Homo sapiens: one gene and its partners. The protein of the gene in region 1 interacts with the protein of each later gene in a biochemical or structural test. Each region holds a gene or a part of one and is shown on either strand. Other genes may lie near its edges.

Region 1 (7,023 bases):
GAGCAGGACCCTGGCTGCCGTACTGCAGAGCACACTAGACGTTCCAACAGAGAAAGGAGCTCAGCATCAAACTCTTCCTATGAATAAGGAAACTAAAACCCAAGATGCTCAAATGACTTGCCCAGAATTGCACAGCGAGTCAGCCCAGACTCCCAGCCCCCATGCCCCAGCACTTTACTTTAAGCCACATTCAAAGGAAGCGCGGTCCCTCTGCTAAATACTTCCTATGTGAGGCATAAAAGCTATTTGGATTTCAAACCCACTTAGAATTTGAGGTTTAAAACTCTGAGGGACTTTGTGGCATTTAAGGATCCCATGGAAACATCACTCTTCCTTCTTTGAAAGGCTAGGCTTCTCACCATCATCCCACGCCCCCCGCCCCACCACCAGTCCTCACAAAATTACAGTGAAAGAGAAAATCATGGTGCCTTGAAAAAGGAAACAGGAAGATAAGGCTGAAGAAACACCCACATCTATGGCACTGATCAAACTGCCATCAGTGCAGTAAGAAGCTTGGGCCATCAGCTATGCCGAGAATTCAAAACCCAGGGGTCCAACTGTGCCAAGCTGCAAGGGGCCCCACAGGTGGCACCCAGGCCTGTGACTGTTGTGGAGAAGAAAGAGGACACAGATAGAGGTCGATGTGAGTGGATCACTTGAGTCCAGGAGTTCGAGACCACCCTGGGCAACACGATGAAACCCTATCTCTACAAAAAATGCAAAAAATTAGCCAGGCATGGTGGTGGCACCTGTAGTCCTAGCTACTTGGGAAGCTGAGGTGGGAAGATCACCCGAGCCTGGGAGATCAAGGTTGCAGTGAACCATGATTGTGCCTCTGCACTCCAGCCTGGGTGACAGAGTGAGACCCTGTCTCAAAAAAACAAAAAAAAAAAAAAAAAAAGAAAGAGGAAATGGATAAACAATCTCAGAAGGCCTGCTACCAAAATTAGAATTAAGAGCAGAACTAACAAAACATCTTCCCCAGGGCCACCTCCAGCCCGGGACAAGTTTTGTTAGCCTGCACAGTATATTTGTTTTTATTTGACTTAGTTGCTAATATTTTTAAGTTGGGAGATTTTTCATAAATATCTGAATTCTAGCTTCTCTTGAAAAATCAGAACACCCAACAATACTGGCCTCACGTTCTCACATGACCCAACCAGTTGGTACTAAATAGAGCTGCCCCTCTAAGCTGGGAGTGCCACTTGTACTCCCCACCCCTTGGCCACGGTGCTGGAATAGAAGAAGGAAGACCCCATTCAACCCACCGTTTGGGTCAGCTTTGGGATGGCCACCTCCAATGGACACTCAGACTGGATCCAGCGATCCCTGCAGGTTGTGCAGCCTCCCAGCACGTTTGTCCATAAGAAGTCAAATGAACAAGGTGATCTGTGTCCCAGGAAATCCCCCACAAGCCTAACAGAACTAGTTCAGTGATGCTTAACCCCTTGTCAGTCATGGTTTCCTAGGCTGGTCCCCTGGAAGGTAACAGGAAGTCACATACTCCTAGGGGTGAACCGTGGAGATGCCCCTGTGGCTATAAGAATAGCCACAAATCCAGCCATCACTCCCTCCCCAGCTGTTTGAAATCAGAAAGGGTGAAAAGTTGCCTCCAAGGGAGGCAAGGGCTGGGAGAGATGTGGACCCTCTTACACAGTGTCATTTGCAAGGCAGGCATTTAGAAGCTGCATTCATCTGAATGCAGTGGGAGCTTTGCCTTCATCTGAAAAATAAAACTGTATGCTGGGATGGCTCTGGCTTTGGGGGTTTAGGGGTGAGGAAGGCAGCCGCATGAGATTGTCCTACACTTAGTGAGCTGTCACTGAAGAGAGCAGGAAGGAGCCAGAGAATACTCCCAAAAAGGAGCCCCCAGTGAAGAGCACTGGAGAAGGCTAAGGATGAGAGAGGGCAGGCAGCCAGGCAGCAGAACGGGCAGCCCGCGAGGATCTGAAATGCAGAAGAAAATACTTGTCCTCCCTCTTGTCTCTCATCTCACAGATCCTCAGTTCTGTCACTCGCAGAGTCCTACAGGGCAGTGGTGGAAAGAAACTAGCCCTCCTTTTACCGTTGGGAAACCTGGGTTCTACCCCCATGTCTATCTCCAAGTCACTGTTCCTCTGCACTCTCCATCTTGGCCTCTGTTGCTACAACTGCCACAGGATAGAGTCAAGCCTTAAGGACTATAGGAGACCACAGACATGAAAGCACCTTAGAGGCATGGCCTGCCTGGCCATGGCTTTGGACTGGACACTCAGGACGCCCCTGAGGCTAGCCATGGCCCTACAGACAGCAGTTAGAAATTCCCCACAGCACAGGTCCAGGCAGAAAACATCAGCGGGCCCGTGATCTCTCTTGACCACACATCCCATGCCCCTTCACAGTCTTTGCCACATCTGTAACCACTGCTCTATTTGCCTCATACATTTCTTTCACATCACTTCAATTTTGACTTAAATAAATTTATTTTATAAGGCAATTGTAGTTCCCTACTGTAAGTGGGTAGGTGGGAGTGTTGAGGGGGAGTTCACAAACTCACTGGTTTGGTGTGTTACTTACGTTTTTCTAACATACATTAAAATAAATGTATTAGAAAACAATGTGCACCCTTGCATCTTTGCATTATAGAGGATGTAAACCGATGCTCTGTAAATAAGTTATGCTCATCCTGCAAGGCATTTTTAATTGAAATTAGTTGCCTCTGTTAAAAAAATATATAGATTAAGCTAGGTGTGATGGCTCACACCTGTAATTCCAGCACTTTGGGAGGCTGAGGTAGGAGGATTGCTTGAGCCCAGGAGTTCGATACCAGCCTGGGCAACATAGGGAGACCCCCATCTCTACATAAAAAAAAAATTAATTTAAATATAGAGATTTCACATACAGAAATATCCATGCATACATCTACACAAGCCCCAGCTTCTGCCTTCTCTTGAAGAATGCAAAAAATCTGGCAAACACCAGACCCATGGTCCTGGCAGCATTCGGCTGGAGCTAAGAAGCACTGCCCCTTTAATCGGACTTGTGCTGCCTAGCTTGCCAGGGACCCAACCTCTCCCCATCGTCTTTTGCCTGGCCTGCTTCCCTCATTACCTTATCTGCCTGGCCCCATGTAAGGCATTAGATTTTGTGACCCCCATGGACTACCTAAGGTTATCTTGCGAACCCCCAATTATATGTGTACTCTACGTTGGGAAACCTGTGGGTCCCCAAAGCCTGACCAGGGGTTTGGCTGATGTTCCTCTGCAGAGCAGGCCAGCTGCCTGTCATGTTGTTTTGTGTCGTGGAAATCCCGCAAAGAGCCAGAAGTAAGGGGCTCATAAAACACAATGGAGCCTCTTATAATCCATAAAAAGAACAGGAGTTATCCCCTCCTCCCCAAAACCTACCATCATCATTGCTATCCCCTCAGCAATTTTGTCCAGGTGCATCAGGCTTCTAAGTGCATGTCAGAACCCCACCCTGGACAAAGAGCCCCTCTGGAACAGACCAAGAAACTGTGTGCCTGATTCTCCTCTATCTCCCCTGTACCATGCATGATGTCAGGGCCTCTGTCAAGGTTTGCCAAGAGAAGAAAAACAGGCTAACAATTTACAAAATAGCAGGACTCAAAATGTGAACACATGCACTCCCACAGCGATCTGTGCATTTGAATCATCACAGAAGGATCCACTATCAGGACAAGAGGCTCTCATTCTAGTCTGACCGACCACCTCATTCTGCCAGGAGTGAGGGTCTCCTACGCCCACACAAGCTCTGCACTGATGATGGTAGGGTGTGATTTGGAGAAATGGAAACTGTCCAAGTTTTCAGGCTGCTCCCTTCTCTTTTCTCTGCAGAGTTTAGAGAACCATCATTTCTGTTCATCTCTGAACTTCATCCCTGACTCTTTGGGTTTAAATGGAGTTGAAATTTCATCATCTACAACAGAAAACTTTCTTCCATACATTTATTTTTAAAGCTCTGAGAGCGCCCTTCCATGTGTCTTGGATCAGACTGGAAAGGAAAGGGAGCTGTGTGGCTGCCAGGAAGATCCTGTGCATGACTCCCAGGGTGTTTCTCTGGTTCTTTCTCTCCCTGTGTGAGATTCCATGTATGAGTTGGGGAGAGGGCAACTCCTTTGCTCCAGAGCATCTTAGCCTCCTGGACAACACCTCTGGAGTTGAAGATGCACATCAGAACCACTGGGGTTCTGGGCTCTCAGAGAGAGGAAGAGCTTTGTCAAGGTCCCACTTTGAGCTTGTGGCAGAGCTGGAACAAGGAGCCAAGTCTCCCAACTCCAAGTCAGGTTTATGTTCCTCTCACTCACTGGCTCAAGCTCTGCCCAAACTGGAGGAAGGATTTTCTTCCTGGGAATCTTTGAGATGGGCCAGTGCTAAGACCTTGAGCCTAGGTTTGCAGGGACAGCGACATTTGTGAAGATCTAGTCAGGACAATTCACTGTGAAGTGTTCCACACATATAGGTGGGTGGTGAAGGGAGGGATGGAAATAACTCTGGGCTCAGAAGAAACTCGAGCGGCCAGGGTGTTGGCATGCTCCCCTCTCCCTGGGCCTAGGACTCCTACCTGCTTTGGAAAGAAGAGAAGGGTAACAGAGACCGAGCAGGCCCCATTAGCATCCCTCCTGTTCAGTAACCCCTAAGGGGCCTTGGTGAAAAAAGAGACCAGATCTTCAGGAAAGGCACATGCAGAGCCTCCAGGATGCCCTGCCATCCCTCCAAATCCCCAACCCCCACAGGCACGAGCCCCTCACCTGTTGATGGAACTGACGCTAGGCACGGTGTCATTGTCACACACCCGCTCTGCCAGCAGCCGGTCCCTGATCTCCCAGGCAAACATGGTGGGATTTTGGCGTTTATATTCAGCGATTTTTTCCACCACTTTGGGTGTGGCGACCTTTGGTTTGGATCCTCCAATTACCCCAGGCTTGATGCTTCCTGTCTCATAATACCTAGGACCCAAAGAGAAAGAAGCTTAGCCATGAGGAACCAGTAAAGTGGATATTGGCAACAAAATAACGGGCTACTCTGGCCAGGAAACGTCCGGATCTGCACGTTCCAATACAGTAGCCACCAGCCAGATGCGGCTTTTGAACATTTGAAATATGGCTAGTCTGAATCAAAATGTGCTGTAAATATAAAATACACACCAAATTTTTAAAACTTAGTACCAAAAGAAGTAAAATATCTCAATAATTTTGATATTAGTTGTATGTTGAAATAACAATTTTTATATATTGAGTTAAAATATATAATTAAAATATAGTACCTCTTTTTTTTAACTTTTCTTAATGTGCTGCTGGAAAATTTTAAATTGCATACACAGCTCTCATAGTATTTCTTTTTTTTTTTTTCAGACGGAGTTTCGCTCTTGTTGCCCAGGCTGGAATGCAATGGCGTGATCTTGGCTCACTGCAACCTCCGCCTCCTGGGTTCAAGTGATTCTCCTGCCTCAGCCTCCCGAGTAGCTGGGATTACAGGCATGTGCCACCATGCCCAGCTAATTTTGTATTTTTAGTAGAGACGGGGGTTTCACCATGTTAGTCAGGCTGGTCTCGAACTCCCGACCTCAGGTTATCCGCCTGCCTCGGCCTCCCAAAGTGCTGGGATTACAGGCATGAGCCACCACGCCCGGCCAGTCTCTCATTGTATTTCTATTGGACAGCACTGGCTAAGCATTAACAAAATTCTTTCACATTCATCTACCATTTTATAGTTTACAGAAAACTTTCGAGTCAGTTTTCCCATTTTATCTCCAACAGTTCTAAAGCACATAAATTGCTTTGAATTAATGAATGAGTGAATGAACAAATAAATGAATAGGTCCTGATCTACAGGTATAAAGCAGAGATTCATCAAGGTTAAACAGTTTTCCTAGGGTCACACAAGACCAAATGGGCAAGCTAGGGCTGTTGCCCACCCAGCCTCTTGAACTACAATTTCCCCAATAAGGTAGCTTACACTTTTGATTTGCCAGCTCTCCCAAGCCCTAGCACAATCTCCAGCATTGTATGAAACTGTCCCCTGAAATGCAACTTATTTTTCTGTAAGAGAAAAATAATAATCCTGGTGTAAAATTAAAAGGAATGTTGAATTGCAGAATTATCTGAAAATATCTGTTGTAAGTCAAAACTCAAGCAATCGGAAAAACCAACCACAAGTCACGGCAACTCTTCCAGGGACCTCCCCTGAGGTAAATGGCTGTTTCTAAGGACATTTCCATGCTATCAGCATTTGCTCATTAAGGAAAATAGGATGTCAGGGTTTTACAGTAAAACCAAGACCAAGAAGAAGAGTGTCATGAAACATCATTTCAGGGGGGGATAATTGACATAATTTCTTTTCTGAATCTGAGACATCACCAGACGTCTCTCTCAATATTTACAGAAGAATTCTTGATTTCCTTTTCCAAGGAAATTATCTTGCAGTTGAATCTGTTTTAAAAAACCAAAAAGACATTTTTTAAATGACTAATAATTTTGAAACCTAACAAGAGTTGATGATAGGTAAGGGAACGAGGTGATTCTGAGATGGGTAGAAAATGTTACCCAAGATGACTGGTCACATTTACAGAGATGCTGAAATTCTCAGCCTGGGTATGTTTGGGTAAGGCCAAGTTAGTGAATATCCTGAAAGAGATGAAATACTTTGGAAGCAGTGATGTGAAAGTGAAATGTCTGTTTTTCATTGAAAAGAGTGAGTCATTTACAAATTTTGACCATAAGGTAAAAACTCAACCTATCTTCCCTCTTTCTAAAAAATTGCTTTCAGCAATTTTTCTGTAATTGCCAAAAAATTATTACTCACAAACAACTTTTTAACAATATCCCAAAAAAACCAGATGGCTAGAAAAGCACCCTAAGTCAAGGCACACAGCAATCTCTGCAGTCTCCAATTGTCCTGTCAATTTTATAATGTAAAGCCAATTTTTACTATAATACAACTCACTATAATTCAGCCACAGCACCCTAAAGTTTACAGAGCTCTTCCTCGAATTATCTTGATCCTCACACTAACCCTGCAAGGC
Region 2 (7,427 bases), about 43 Mb from region 1:
GCACTTTGAATCTGTGACATGGTTTTCTTACCATGACATAATGCCGCTGCATCTCTGTCTTCTCACTGGCGAGTTTCTCACATTCCAGCTTCAGACTGTTCAAGACATAAGATACTCTAAGTACAATGATCTTAACTTACATCCTTCAACTCTTAAACGCATATTCTAAATCTCACCTACAAACAACTAAATCAACAATCTTAAATAAATACCCCCATCATTATGGAAAGGGAAGGGGAAAGGGGTGATTGGAACCAGTCTGGACTTGCCCCTTCAATAAGGATCATATATGTGGTTTTTTGTTTTTAGGATTTTTTTTTTAATTAAGTTTTAAGGAAACAAATCCTCTAATCAGTTTAATTCAGGAACTTCCTCCAGAATTGAATATTCACTTAATAAAACAAACACGAAAATAAACTTCAATAATGACTGCACATACAAGCACAAATAAGTCCTCCAAAACGTCACAAGGGAATTTCTTTAATGTTCTACAAAGAGATTAATGAAAATATGAATCAAGCATGTCTTATGAATGATATCTTGTTTTTTTCCCTCCAAAACACACAGACAAGTTGAATACCACCACCCAGGGGCAAAGTGTCAATCGGGTTCAGTGGTTTGTTTTGGTTCTTGCATTTATGAAATAAGAATTAGGCATCATTAAAAAGCCAGCTAAAGAAAAATGTCTCAAAGGCACCCTAAGTCTAAAAATCGTCTATAAGATGAAAACATTTTTTTTTTTTTTAGCATAAAAGTAATGAAATCGCTCACTCCGACTTCCCTGGGCTCTCAGCTCTTCAGTGGAATGGCAGAAAAAAGTGAGAAGGAATCAAGTCCGGAGTAATAAAGAACCAAGGATGTCAAAAGGCCCCAGAATCTTCCCAACCTTTCATTCTCCCGGCCCCAATAAATCAATATCGAAAGTTTGGCCTCAGCGTTTTCCAAGTCTCCCCAGTTTCGATTGTTCTGCCTTCTTTTTATTTACGGTAGAAGAAATGTTTAATTTATTTACACCTGCCTAAGGAAGGAGGCCTTGATTTGCCCTTTCTGCCCACCGAGAAAAAAAAATAATACCTTTGTGACGCCCCCACAAAAAAGGAGGAGGGTAAGTGTTTGTGTGTATTTGTCGGGGAGACAAGAGCTAAGCAAACAGAAGGATCAGCTAAAGTCAATATCGTTACCTGTGGTATTGAGCCTGTAAAAACTGAAACTCTTCCTTAATCCGATCACAGGATTCGGAAATTGTAAATTTAAAGGGTTGAGCAGGCTGATGCGGTGCCTGAAGAACAACAATAAAATATTTAATTAGCCCACATCACAGGCGAAGCAGGGAGACGGAGAAAACCTACTATGCGGCGTTAGCGGGGGGTGAGGGTCATCGCGCACGCAAGCAAAGAGAGATTAAAACTCTCCTCCCGCAACCCTCCTCGCGCCCAACAGCCCAGGCAGAGGCTGGTTTCGAGGTGGTCCTGGGGCCCCGCATACTCCCGCCCGCAGGCCCCCGCGCCCCGGACCCCGAGGGTTCGAGTCCCGTCTCCCCTCCCCGGCCAAAGACAGGCACCCAGGGACCCGCGCGCCGCGCCCACTCCCTCCTCACCCGGAATCGAAACTGGCCCGTCGGGGGGACCCGCGCCATGGCGTCGGGCTGCGGTCAGGCCGGGGGAGGAGGGAGGCGGCCGCCACCCTCTCGGCTCGTTCGTTCGCCCGCTCGCCCCGGCGGCCCGCGGCGCGAGGGGCCGGCGCCCCGCACTTCCAAACCGCAGCCAGCCCAGCAGCGCCGCTGCCGAGGGCGCCCTCCCCGCCCGGGCGCGGAGTCGCGCCTCCTTCATCGCTCGCCACCCCCCCTCGAGGAGTCGCGGCGCGGGGACCGCAAACGGCTCGGCGCGGCTTCCAGGGGCTTCAAAGACAACAATAAGAAAATGGCTACAACTCAATTGCCTCTCCGCACCCCCTCCGAGGGCCACCGCGCCGGGGGGTGGGGGTGATGGCGGGCGGGCTGCTCCCGGCGCGGGGCGCCGATTTCGGGCGGCTCTCCACGCCCCTCCGGCCAAAAGACACAACTCGGTGCGCAGGGGGCGACGCGGGGAATCCCCCAGCACCCGGCGAGCCCGCGCCCCGCCGCCCGCACTCACTGGGTGTCTGGTCTGCGGGTACATCTTGCTCAGGTCGCGAATCATCCAAGCCGATTTAGTTGGCTGCGCTCGGCAGAGGCGCGCGGCTCATTGGCTTTAATGACCCCGAAGAGGAGGCGGCCGCGGCAGCGGAGGCGGCCGGCTCGGTCTGAGGGGCGGCTCGGGCGGTCCCGGCCCCCGCCGGGTCTCGCGTGACACGGGCGGCAGGAACGCGCGGCGGCGGCTGGGTGCCGGCTGCCGGGCCGCTCCGCATTCCCCGCGGGCGTCACTGGCCCGCCGCGGGCATTGTCCGGCGCGCGTCTCCCAAGGCAACGCTCCGACGTTCGCTCCGCCGAGGCGCACCCGCCGAGCCCGGCGCCGCGGCCGCCGCTCACCCGGCCGGGAAAGTGCGGGCTCCGCGCCCCACCGCCCGCCGGCAGCTCCTCTCGCTCGCTCTGCGTCCCACTCCAAACTTTTTTTATTTGTCTTTTAATTGGTTGTTATTCCTCCGAATGAATGATCTTTCTTCTTCCCTAAAAGCAAACACAAACTCCTTTGGTTCGGAAGAGGTCTCGGCGGTGCTTTTTGGTTTCTCTGGAGATTTTTTTCACTTCACAGCAACGATCTTTTAAAAGGCACCTTTTAGCTTCTTTTACCACATCTCATTTCCTTATTTCTCTTCCTTCCTGTTTTCTTGTCTTTTTTTTAACCCCAAATTGAAGGGGATTATAAAAATAAAAGAGTGAAACGCTTGCGGCTTTTTTTTTTAATTCTCTCTCCTTTCAAACTCTGCGAACACCACCTCAAAATAATATACAAGTGTGTGAGAAAGGGGGAAGAAAGCAGCCAACAACCCAAACACCCGCTCAGCACAGCTCTAACAACACGCTCTGTGTAGGTGACTTCTTTGACCAAATTTAGCAGCAGCTAATCATTAACATTCTGATACATATTCACAATCTTCCGCGGGGCGGCCGCGCAGCATCCCGGGAGATGTAGTCCGCCCCGGGCGACCCTGCCTGAGAATACGGCCAGATTGACTACAATCACCGGCCCGCCATGCGAGCGCTCTGGCGAGCTCTCCAAGCGCCCCGCCCACCCCCGTTGCGGTAGGCGTCTCCACCAACCAATCAGAGGTGGCTGAACATTAATCGCCGTTCTGTGTTAGTGCCCATCATTTCACTGCTGACAAATGGCAAGCCAGCGGGGAGGAGCCAACCCAGCTGAAACCCACGTGGGGGCCGGGCGTCGCCTGTAGCTCCGACCAATTAACGAAGAGGAATGAGGTTGGCGGAGGCGGGGCGGAGATGGCCCGCCCAAGGCGGAGCTTCGCCTTGGCTGACGTTCCTTAGCGCGAGCGTTCGAACCGGGAAAACATTTGTTCAGCTGTCAATCAAAGTAACGTGGGGCTGGGAGAATCGGCGGCTGCTGCTGTTGCTGCTGCCCTGGCTGCATCTTCAGAATTAGGTGTTGGTGGTGGTGGTGGTGGTGGCGGCAAAATAAAGAGGGTGGAGGGAGCGGTGAGCCTGGGGGCTGGTCAAAAGATCTTCTTCCGAGTCTCGTCCTCCCGCCCACCCGTCTCCCAACCCAGACACCTTCGGCCCCTCGCTCCGCAGCCGCGCCAGGAATGCGGACTAATTAGGGTCCAATGTCTCCTTAAAGAGACAAGCTCGGCCTTGTGTAACGCGCCGAAACCCCTGTTGAGACAAGAGGGGGAGGATCACGCTGATCTTACTTCGTTCGGTTCACATCAATTTTACGCGCCGCTGGAGCCGGCATAATTTTCCGTGTGAACGCGACTCGGTCCCCGTTCTTGTTTAGAGCCAGAAATGGAGTCGCGAGATGCTGGCTGGGGCCGGGGCCGCGGGGTGGGCGGGGAGCTCGTCCCTCCAAGCCCCGCGGGGGCTGTGATTGCCATTTAGTTCCGAAACAGGCCTCCCTCCCTCCACCCCCGGAGGCACTCGGAGAGAAAGCGCATCCCGACGCTCCATCGGGGGTCGCGGGGGGCAGTAACCGTGGGGGCTCCGGGTGGGGCTGAAGATCCGGGAATCAGAGACGCTGGACCTCCAAAGAAACTTTGCCGACTGGGCCACGTGAACCCCGAACACGGTCGGTACTGAACAGAGCAGGCCGACGGGGCACGGGTAGAAAACGCCCCTGCGCGCCCTGGGACGTTCCCTCCCCCAGATCAGTACCAAGACTGCGCCTCTTTTTCCCGCTCTTTGGAGAAGCAAGTCAAGTTTATCCCCGTTAAAAACAGAGCAGGGTGCCACGCGGGCCCGAGAGATGGCGGAAAGGTGGGGGTGGCCCCAGGGGCAGATGCTGGAGGAGGAGAGAAAGGGGCAGCCATGGCTGAGGAGGGGCACCCCTAGGGAGGGGCCTGGGAAATGGGGGCGGCCTCCGTCAGTGCGCCTTTCCATCCTTAGTCCGTGTCCAGCTGGAGGCAGCGCCCCAGTTCAAGGGGAGGCTGCTGAGGCTCGCAGTCTTTTCTAGCGAGCGGCTAATCTTGGGGACAGGGAAAAAATTCGGAAAAAGTCAAGAAGAGTGTTGGCTAATGTAACAGGCTGGGTTTTAGACGTTTATTTCTATGCGTGCTTGCCTACTGTAACTTGACCTGTTGGTTGAGATGGTGCCGCCGGTTCGGCGTTAGTGGAAAACTATTCTTCTTAATGATATCCCTTTCCTCAGTGGATGACTCGGTGACTTAATGTCCAACCTAGCACGTTCTGTGAACCTCCTTCCGTTCTGGCCACTGTAGTGAGCTGGTGCAAAGGAAGGCTATGGTGGTCTTCACCTGCCTCTAATTTCATACTAAAAACCCAGAGCCAAAGTTCACAGAATGTTTCAATTCGGCAAATATTTTCGCCTCCATCCCCAAAATAAGAGGACAGAGAAGTCCTTTTGACAGTTTTCTGAACCTCTGCTGTTCCATACCTAGCCACATGTGACTGTTAAGCACTTGAAATGTGTCCAATTCAAAATGAGATGTGCTGTAAGTACACATATATGTGGCATTTTGAAAAAATTAATGTGAAAAAACTGCAGCTCAATAATTTATAATTATGTCAAAATTGTGATATTTTGAATAACTCAATTAAAAATATTAGTAAAATTAATTTTGTCTGTTTCTATTTATTTATTGTATTGATGGGGGTCTTCCTGTGTTGCCTAGGCTGGCCTCAAACTCTGAAGCTCAAGCTATCCTCCTGCCTGAGCCTCCAGTGTTGTTGGGACTGCAGGCACACACTTTTTTTTTTTTTTTTTTTTTTTTTTGAGACAGAGTTTCGCTCTTGTTGCCCAGGCTGGAGTGCAATGGCACGATCTCGGCTCACCGCAACCTCCGCCTCCTGGGTTCAAGCGATTCTCCTTCCTCAGCCTCCCGAGTAGCTAGGATTACAGGCATGCGCCACCACACCCAGCTAATTTTTTGTATTTTTAGTAGAGACGGGGTTTCTCCATGTTGGTCAGGCTGGTCTTGAACTCCTGACCTCAGGTGATCCGTCCGCCTCGGCCTCCCAAAGTGCTTGGATTACAGGCGTGAGCCACCGTGCCCAGCCTCTTTTTACTTTTTTAACTTTGTTCCTAGAAGATTTTAAATTATGAGGCTTACATATTTCCATTAGACAGCCCTGCCCTGAAACCTTCCCAAGAATCAAAAGTGAGAAGACTTTAGTGATACAATTTGCACACGAGGACAGCGAAGTTTCTAAGAACACCAGCAACAACCATGTTTTATTCTAAGGTTGGTTAGTTGCTTGCTCCCACTAGAGCTTTTCAATGGTTTGTGAAATCACCCACAGTGCCTCTGTAGGAAGTTCCATGTTCTCTATTTTAGCCAGAATGTTAGCAAGTTCCATGAGAACAGGGACCTGGTTGTGTTCACAGTTGCACTCCAAACTCCCCAAATTATGTCTGCCATCACTGTCTGGTAGTTGGTGCTCAGTAAATATTTGTTGATGGCATTAATGAATGAATACCTCATTGCATCCTTATAGGAAGTTTCCACATCATTTGGGTCATATTTATTGAAATTCTGTGCAGTTTTCTCTCAGGACAGGAAACGAGAATTCTAAGAATAGAACCCGAAGAACTATTGAAAGGGTCAGTGGACAAAGAGGAAACTTTGCTCTGTTAGGAAATATCAGATCACTTATAGCAAGGATCTTTCCCCTAATCTCTCTCGATGGTTTGTGTCAACAGGAAAGTGGCTAGAGAAGTCAAGATGTTTCTTTATTTTTTAAGTTCTGTATTAAAATATAGCCCTTGGATGTGTTTCACATTTTGGCCACGTGGCAGAGCTATGTAACTCACCTCAATGTCTCAGAAAGATGCAAATGCAGCAACTGGCGGCCCAGCCCTAGCCGTAACACAGACTGTAAGTGGGGCTCATGGCCACTTTTTCTCCTTTTCTCTGCTGTGCTTCTCTCATTGCACTTCTCGCTAACTGTTGAGCCAAGCTATGATGTTATCTGGAGGCCTGTCTTATCCCTACCACAGAGTGGGGGGTAGGTGGGGTGTTCCAGAGTTTTCATGTGGGAGGCACTTGGCAGCAACTTTCATGTTAAAAGCTAGGCCTGAAAGCTCCAATCTTGAAGTGACATATGCCAAGCATGCTTTTCACTTTGGTTAGATGTAAATCATTTATTTATTACTTCACCAAATATTTATTAAACCTACTATGTGCCAGAATATGGGGATTTCACAATAAAAGTGGCTATTATTAATATGTTGCCTCTTAGCTCCAAATTCATCCTCATTGCCTGCCTAGTGAAACTGAATCTGAGCCCTTTAAATATTTTCCAGCTGTTAAAAAAGCTAGGTCAATAGAAGGCGCTGGAGAGACATTGCAGGAGGAAAGGGTTTGGTTTCCTGGTTCCTGGCTCTGGTTGCATACTGGGCAGGTTCCTACAGCACAGGTAGCAAGCAGCAGCACCCAGCAGCCAGCAGCTTCCTCCAGAAGCCCCTTAGGTGGCTTTGGAGCAAGTGCCTCTAATGAGTCACCTCCCTCAGCAGCTTTCCTTGGAACCCCAGAGAATGGATTTCCAACGAGTTCTGGAATGTGGATTTCTAGCAAGTTCCAGAAGGCAGAATTCTAGCAGGGCTCTCCTGCTATTCAGAAAGTTACAACTGTGCCCTCTCCAGCAAAGTCTGGATCTCAGCCAGCCCTAAGAGTGTGTCTGTGTCTTGGAGGAGCTCTTTTTGAGATGCTGTATCTCAGCCCTAGGGTTAGTAAGTAGCTGTTCCTTATATCTCTATTTCTGTATTATTTAGAGCTCTCTTTACCTCTTACCAATCTCCCTTTGATCCAATTCCCTG
Region 3 (7,023 bases), on another chromosome or scaffold:
GGGTCCCCTCTCAATGCGGGTGCCCTAAAGAGTCATCGCTGAGTCCATTTAGGCAAAGGGTTAGAATGATTTAAAAGTAAAATGGTCTCCCAAACCCAAATCTAAGTAAACGGAGGGAGGGAAAAAAGAGTCAAGCAAGCCACCACGTTCCTTCGTTCCTTCTCCTCATTTCCACCCCCACTAAAAAACAAAACAAACAAAAAAAACTGCTTTTAGAAAAGTGAGTGGAAAAAGAGGCCAATCTATAGACACAGCCAACTGCAAATTTCGTTTTGTTTTAGAAATCACAATCTAAGTGTGGAAACTGTATAAAGCTTAAAAATAACCGCAACAATACTTTTTTAAAAAGTGAATATTCGTCGTTGTAATAAGATCAAGACCCAGCTGAGGCTTGGAACTATAAAAAGCTTATATTAAATTAATCTCCCTTTAAAGGGGACAATTATTTAAACTTTTTTTTTAGTAGCTTATCTTTACACTTGGAACCACCTGCCTTGATTCGCCCTTTAAACGAACAGGAAATGACCCGCACTGATTTTACTTAGTCGCATCTTTTCAAACCCACCAAAGACAAAACAGAATCTCCACTGCAGAAATTAAATTCCTACTGCTTGCTGCTAGTGTAGTAGGGTGATTGTTTAGAAACGCCTGGGGTTGTTTTCATACCCCTGTTGAAGGTCAAGGTTTTTAAAGGCAGCTCAAAGCTTTGGGGATGATCAGGGGTGAAAAGTGAAGGGAGATCTTTGGAGCCGCCGCGCTGAAGTCTCCGGCTACGCGCCGCCCCCTCCTCTAGCAGGAAAGCGGGCCGCTGGGACCCCTGGCTCTCCGAAAACAGCCTCGTCACCTTTCGCTACCCCTGGCTTAATCTAGGTGAGCTGATGATAGCATTCAGAACGGTTCCGGGAAAAGAAACAGGATTCGATACTTGCGGCTTCTGGCAGGAGCAGGCTAAAAAGCTCAGAGAACTCTTCAGAAAACTTTTGCAAACTTAACTACGCCCGCTGTGGACTTTGGACATGCTAATTCCTATAGGGCGGTTAGAGAAGGGGAAAAAAAATCCCTGACAGTTTCCCTAGTTAGTTTCTTTTCACTGACTTGAAGGCAGAAAAGTCTTACTATTTTATTTCCTGATCCTTTCATCTGAGGAAGACAAAATGGTTTGGGTGTTAATCCAGCGGTAGGGGCAGCAGTAAGTTAGCAGACGGGCTGTCTCTGCCGGGCTGGGTTATAACTTTTCCTACTTTGTATCAAAGCTAAGGCCCCTGCCAGGGAGGTCCCGACCGGCTCCCAGTGGATATCTTTGGGGACACCCTGATGTTTTCAGCCCTCCTGGGAGGCCGCCCCAGAAAGCTGAGACGAGTGCCTCCCGAGGGTCGCCACGGCAACACAGCATCCCCCACATCCCAAGCTAGGAAGACCGACCCGGGGCTGCGGGGGCCCCTTTCCAGAATCCGGCCCCGCCCGCCTGGCCGCTGCCCTCGCGGATCTCCCCCGGCCTCGCCGGCCTCCGCCTGTCCTCCCACCACCCTCTCCGGGCCAGTACCTTGAAAGCGATGGGCAGGGTCTTGTTGCAGCGCCAGTGCGTAGGCAGCACGGAGCAGAGGAAGTTGGGGCTGTCGGTGCGCACCAGCTCGCCCGGGTGGTCGGCCAGCACCTCCACCATGCTGCGGTCGCCGCTCCTCAGCTTGCCGGCCAGGGCAGCGCCGGCGTCCGGGGCGCCCAGCGGCAACGCCTCGCTCATCTTGCCTGGGCTCAGCGCGGTGGAAGGCGGCGTGAAGCGGCGGCTCGTGCTGGCATCTACGGGGATACGCATCACAACAAGCCGATTGAGTTAGGACCCTGCAAACAGCTCCTACCAGACGGCGACAGGGGCGCGGATCTTCAGCAAGCAGCTCCCGGGAGACCAACATACACGTTCAGGGGCCTTTATTACTGCGGGGGGTGGGGGGGGGCGGGGGTGGTTAGGGGAGGAGGGAGACTAAGTTACTAACAGTCCAGGAGGGGAAAACGTTCTGGTTCTGCGGATCGGCCTCTGACCCAGGATGGGCTCCTAGCAACCGATTGCTTAGTGCATTAAAAAGTGGAGACTATCTTCCACGAATCTTGCTTGCAGAGGTTAAGTTCTGTCTTTGGCTGTTAGAAAAGTTCCTGAAGGCAAAATTCTCATACACTTCCTAAAATATTTATGCGAAGAGTAAAACGATCAGCAAACACATTATTTGGAAGTTCCAGTAGTTAATGCCTGTCAGTTTTTTGCAGGTGAGTTTTGTCTAAAGTCCCAACAGAACACAATTATCTCCCGTAACAAGGCCACTTTTATCATGCAAAACTGGCTTCAGTCCCGAAAAGCAAGAGCTGAGACTTCCAAAGGTAGTGCTACTAATGTATGTGCACGTATATATAAATATATACATATGCTCTACTTCATAAAATATTTACAATACAATCTGTGGAGAATTTAAACACAACAGAAATCCATTAATGTACGCTGCAGATTTTTTTAAGTAGCCTTGAAAATCAGCTTCAGTAGTTGGAGCAGTGCTGAGCTAGAAGTACTTGTCATGTTCTCTGTTCTCTCAATGAATTCTGTCAAAACGCTCAGTGCAGAAAATTCAGCGTTTCAGAGATCTTCAGCTAATCTTAAAACAACAATCATAAGAAGGCCCAGTCGATGACACTCAGGGTTCTACAGCTCTCCCACATCTGTGAACTCGGGTTTGGGGATGTTGGTTAAGTTTGTGGCTGGTCCTCTGGTTTGTTGGGAGTTGAGCAGCCGCAGAGTCACACACATGCAAACACGCACTCTTCGGAAGGCAGCCACTGTCTACATCAGCTGGGTGACTCAGCCCTGACTCGGGCAGCAGCGAGACGATACTCCTCCACCGTCGCCCAGCACCCGCCGGTTAGCTGCTCCGAGGCACGAACACCCACGAGCGCCGCGTAACCGCAGCAGGTGGAGCGGGCCTTGAGGGAGGGCTCCGCGGCGCAGATCGAAACAGATCGGGCGGCTCGGGTTACACACGCACGCACATCCTGCCACGCACACTGCCACGCACACGCAACTTCACGGCTCGCCTCGGACCACAGAGCACTTTCTCCCCCTGTTGTAAAAGGAAAACAATTGGGGAAAAGTTCGCAGCCAGGAAAGAAGTTGAAAACATCCAGCCAAGAAGCCAGTTAATTCAAAAGGAAGAAAGGGGAAAAACAAAAAAAAACAACAAAAAAAGGAAGGTCCAACGCAGGCCAAGGAGAAGCAGCAGAGGTTGACTTCCTTCTGGCGTCCCTAGGAGCCCCGGAAAGAAGTGCCTGGCGGCGCAGGGCCGGGCAGCGTGGTGCCCTGGCTGGGTCCGGCCGCGGGGCGCCCGTCCCGCCCGCGCCCGCTGGCTCTATGAATGAGAGTGCCTGGAAATGAACGTGCTTTTACTGTAAGCCCGGCCGGAGGAATTCCATTCCCTCAGCTCGTTTGCATAGGGGCGGCCGGCGGCCAATCACAGGCCTTTCCGGTATCAGCCAGGGCGCGGCTCGCCGCCGCCGGCTCCTGGAATTGGCCCGCGCGCCCCCGCCGCCGCGCCGCGCGCTACTGTACGCAGCCCGGGCGGGGAGTCGGAGGCCACCCCCGCGCCCCGCATCCAAGCCTGCATGCTGGCCCGGGGCCCCGCCCGCGTGCGGACCCCTTTCCGCAGCCACACGCAGGCTTGTGCGGCTCCGCGAGTGGCCACGGTCCGGAGACCTGGAAAAAGAAAGCAGGCCCCGCCGGCCCGAGGAGGACCCGGCCGGCGCGCCGCACCCGGAGAGGCCCGGCCCCGCGAGCCGCTGCAGGCAGGCGCAGTGGCCGCCACGAGGCTCCCGAACCGGGCTGCAGCCCGCGGACGGCCCCAGATCCTGCGCGGCCGCCCAGGGCCAGGCCTCCGCTTCCAGGGCGGGGGTGCGATTTGGCCGCGGGGCCCGGGGGAGCCACTCCGCGCTCCTGCACCGTCCGGCTGGCAGCTGCGGCGAAGCGGCGCTGATTCCTTGCATGAGGCCGGACGGCGTCCGCGCGTGCCGTTTGCTCTCAGCGTCTTCCCTTGGGTCGGTTTCTGTAATGGGTGTTTTTTACCGCTGCGCCCGGGCCGCGGCTCGATCCCTCCGCGCGTCTCACTTGCTGCGTGCGTCAGCGGCCAGCGAAGAGTTTCCTAGTCAGGAAAGACCCCAAGAACGCGCGGCTGGAAGGAAAGTTGAAAGCAGCCACGCGGCTTGCTCCCGGGCCTTGTAGCGCCGGCACCCGCAGCAGCCGGACAGCCTGCCCGGGCCCCGCGTCTCCCCTCCGGCTCCCCGGAAGCGGCCCCCGCTCCTCTCCCCGCCCCCGTGCGCTCGAGCGGCCCCAGGTGCGGAACCCACCCCGGCTTCGCGTGCGGGCGGCCGCTTCCCCCTGCGCCGGTCCCCGCGGTGCTGCGGGCATTTTCGCGGAGCTCGGAGGGCCCCGCCCCCGGTCCGGCGTGCGCTGCCAACTCCGACCCCGCCCGGCGGGGCTCCCTCCCAGCGGAGGCTGCTCCCGTCACCATGAGTCCCTCCACGCCCTCCCTGCCGGGCCCTGCACCTCCCGGGGCCTCTCATCCACCCCGGGGCTGCAACCCAGTCCCCGGATCCCGGCCCCGTTCCACCGCGGGCTGCTTTGTGGTCCCCGCGGAGCCCCTCAATTAAGCTCCCCGGCGCGGGGGTCCCTCGCCGACCTCACGGGGCCCCTGACGCCCGCTCCTCCCTCCCCCAGGGCTAGGGTGCTGTGGCCGCTGCCGCGCAGGGACTGTCCCCGGGCGTTGCCGCGGGCCCGGACGCAGGAGGGGGCCGGGGTTGACTGGCGTGGAGGCCTTTCCCGGGCGGGCCCGGACTGCGCGGAGCTGTCGGGACGCGCCGCGGGCTCTGGCGGACGCCAGGGGGCAGCAGCCGCCCTCCCTGGACGCCGCGCGCAGTCCCCGGAGCTCCCGGAACGCCCCCGACGGCGCGGGGCTGTGCGGCCCGCCTCGTGGCCTTCGGGTCGCCCGGGAAGAACTAGCGTTCGAGGATAAAAGACAGGAAGCCGCCCCAGAGCCCACTTGAGCTGGAACGGCCAAGGCGCGTTTCCGAGGTTCCAATATAGAGTCGCAGCCGGCCAGGTGGGGACTCTCGGACCAGGCCTCCCCGCTGTGCGGCCCGGTCGGGGTCTCTTCCCGAAGCCCCTGTTCCTGGGGCTTGACTCGGGCCGCTCTTGGCTATCTGTGCTTCAGGAGCCCGGGCTTCCGGGGGGCTAAGGCGGGCGGCCCGCGGCCTCAACCCTCTCCGCCTCCGCTCCCCCTGGGCACTGCCAGCACCCGAGTTCAGTTTTGTTTTAATGGACCTGGGGTCTCGGAAAGAAAACTTACTACATTTTTCTTTTAAAATGATTTTTTTAAGCCTAATTCCAGTTGTAAATCCCCCCCTCCCCCCGCCCAAACGTCCACTTTCTAACTCTGTCCCTGAGAAGAGTGCATCGCGCGCGCCCGCCCGCCCGCAGGGGCCGCAGCGCCTTTGCCTGCGGGTTCGGACGCGGCCCGCTCTAGAGGCAAGTTCTGGGCAAGGGAAACCTTTTCGCCTGGTCTCCAATGCATTTCCCCGAGATCCCACCCAGGGCTCCTGGGGCCACCCCCACGTGCATCCCCCGGAACCCCCGAGATGCGGGAGGGAGCACGAGGGTGTGGCGGCTCCAAAAGTAGGCTTTTGACTCCAGGGGAAATAGCAGACTCGGGTGATTTGCCCCTCGGAAAGGTCCAGGGAGGCTCCTCTGGGTCTCGGGCCGCTTGCCTAAAACCCTAAACCCCGCGACGGGGGCTGCGAGTCGGACTCGGGCTGCGGTCTCCCAGGAGGGAGTCAAGTTCCTTTATCGAGTAAGGAAAGTTGGTCCCAGCCTTGCATGCACCGAGTTTAGCCGTCAGAGGCAGCGTCGTGGGAGCTGCTCAGCTAGGAGTTTCAACCGATAAACCCCGAGTTTGAAGCCCGACAAAAAGCTGATAGCAATCACAGCTTTTGCTCCTTGACTCGATGGGATCGCGGGACATTTGGGTTTCCCCGGAGCGGCGCAGGCTGTTAACTGCGCAGCGCGGTGCCCTCTTGAAAAGAAGAAACAGACCAACCTCTGCCCTTCCTTACTGAGGATCTAAAATGAATGGAAAGAGGCAGGGGCTCCGGGGAAAGGGAACCCCTTAGTCGGCCGGGCATTTTACGGAGCCTGCACTTTCAAGGACAGCCACAGCGTGTACGAAGTGAGGAATTCCTTTCCACCAAGAGCGCTCATTTTAGCGACAATACAGAATTCCCCTTCCTTTGCCTAAGGGAGAAAGGAAAGGAAACATTACCAGGTTCATTCCCAGTGTTTCCCTGGAGTAATGCTAGAATTTACTTTTGTCATAATGCAAAATTAAAAAAAAAAAAAATACAACGAAGCGATACGTTGGGCGGATGCTACGTGACAGATTTTTCCAAATTTTGTTGCGGGGAGAGGGAGGGAGGAGAATTGAAAACGGCTCACAACAGGAATGAAATGTACATTTCTGCAGTGGATTTAAAAAGTACTGCTTGGTTAGTTGGAAGAAAAATAATTTCATTGGAAAACAGTAACAGTGCATTGACGTTTTTCTTCTACAACTTTAGGTAAAGAACTATAGGTGGTCTCAGAAGATAACTAAATCTTTTACCTTTTTGCTCTTTCAAAAGCCTCCCCAAAATATGCATAAAGATGGGATTAGAATCTCAACAATTCTCTTAAAATTACCCTTTGCGAGCAATATATTTCCAAAATCACATTTGTAAAAATGCAGTACGTCTAAAAGAATTATTTCTATTTTAAATGACCATTTACATTTTAAAAAATAGAATGTATCTTGCTATGGTTTGGAACCAAATAGCTGCAGTTTGTATTGATGTCACAGGGATGGAAAACAATTTTGATGAAGAGTAACATGTATGTACAAATCACCTGCCATACACACTATCCAGTTTTGAACATTGGAATTTAATTAAACATTTTTTTCTTCT

What was found.
Region 2: the proteins of PAX5 (region 1) and TLE4 form a complex in vitro, tested with the Homo sapiens proteins (2 studies listed by BioGRID).
Region 3: the proteins of PAX5 (region 1) and RUNX1 form a complex in vitro, tested with the Homo sapiens proteins (one study listed by BioGRID).

What each region holds. Positions count from the first base shown.
Region 1 is NC_000009.12:37,010,247-37,017,269, forward strand, and holds part of PAX5 (paired box protein Pax-5), read right to left. Parts: intron 4,949-7,023; coding exon 4,751-4,948; intron 1-4,750. UniProt on the Homo sapiens protein: Transcription factor that plays an essential role in commitment of lymphoid progenitors to the B-lymphocyte lineage. Fulfills a dual role by repressing B-lineage inappropriate genes and simultaneously activating B-lineage-specific genes.
Region 2 is NC_000009.12:79,567,541-79,574,967, reverse strand, and holds the start of TLE4 (transducin-like enhancer protein 4), read right to left. Parts: upstream 3,004-7,427; 5' UTR 2,178-3,003; coding exon 2,133-2,177; intron 1,792-2,132; exon of another isoform or gene 1,637-1,791; coding exon of another isoform or gene 1,598-1,636; intron 1,280-1,597; coding exon 1,182-1,279; intron 96-1,181; coding exon 32-95; intron 1-31. UniProt on the Homo sapiens protein: Transcriptional corepressor that binds to a number of transcription factors. Inhibits the transcriptional activation mediated by PAX5, and by CTNNB1 and TCF family members in Wnt signaling.
Region 3 is NC_000021.9:34,885,300-34,892,322, forward strand, and holds part of RUNX1 (runt-related transcription factor 1), read right to left. Parts: intron 4,783-7,023; exon of another isoform or gene 4,594-4,782; coding exon of another isoform or gene 4,378-4,593; intron 4,173-4,377; coding exon of another isoform or gene 3,507-4,172; exon of another isoform or gene 1,814-3,506; coding exon of another isoform or gene 1,798-1,813; coding exon 1,544-1,797; intron 1-1,543.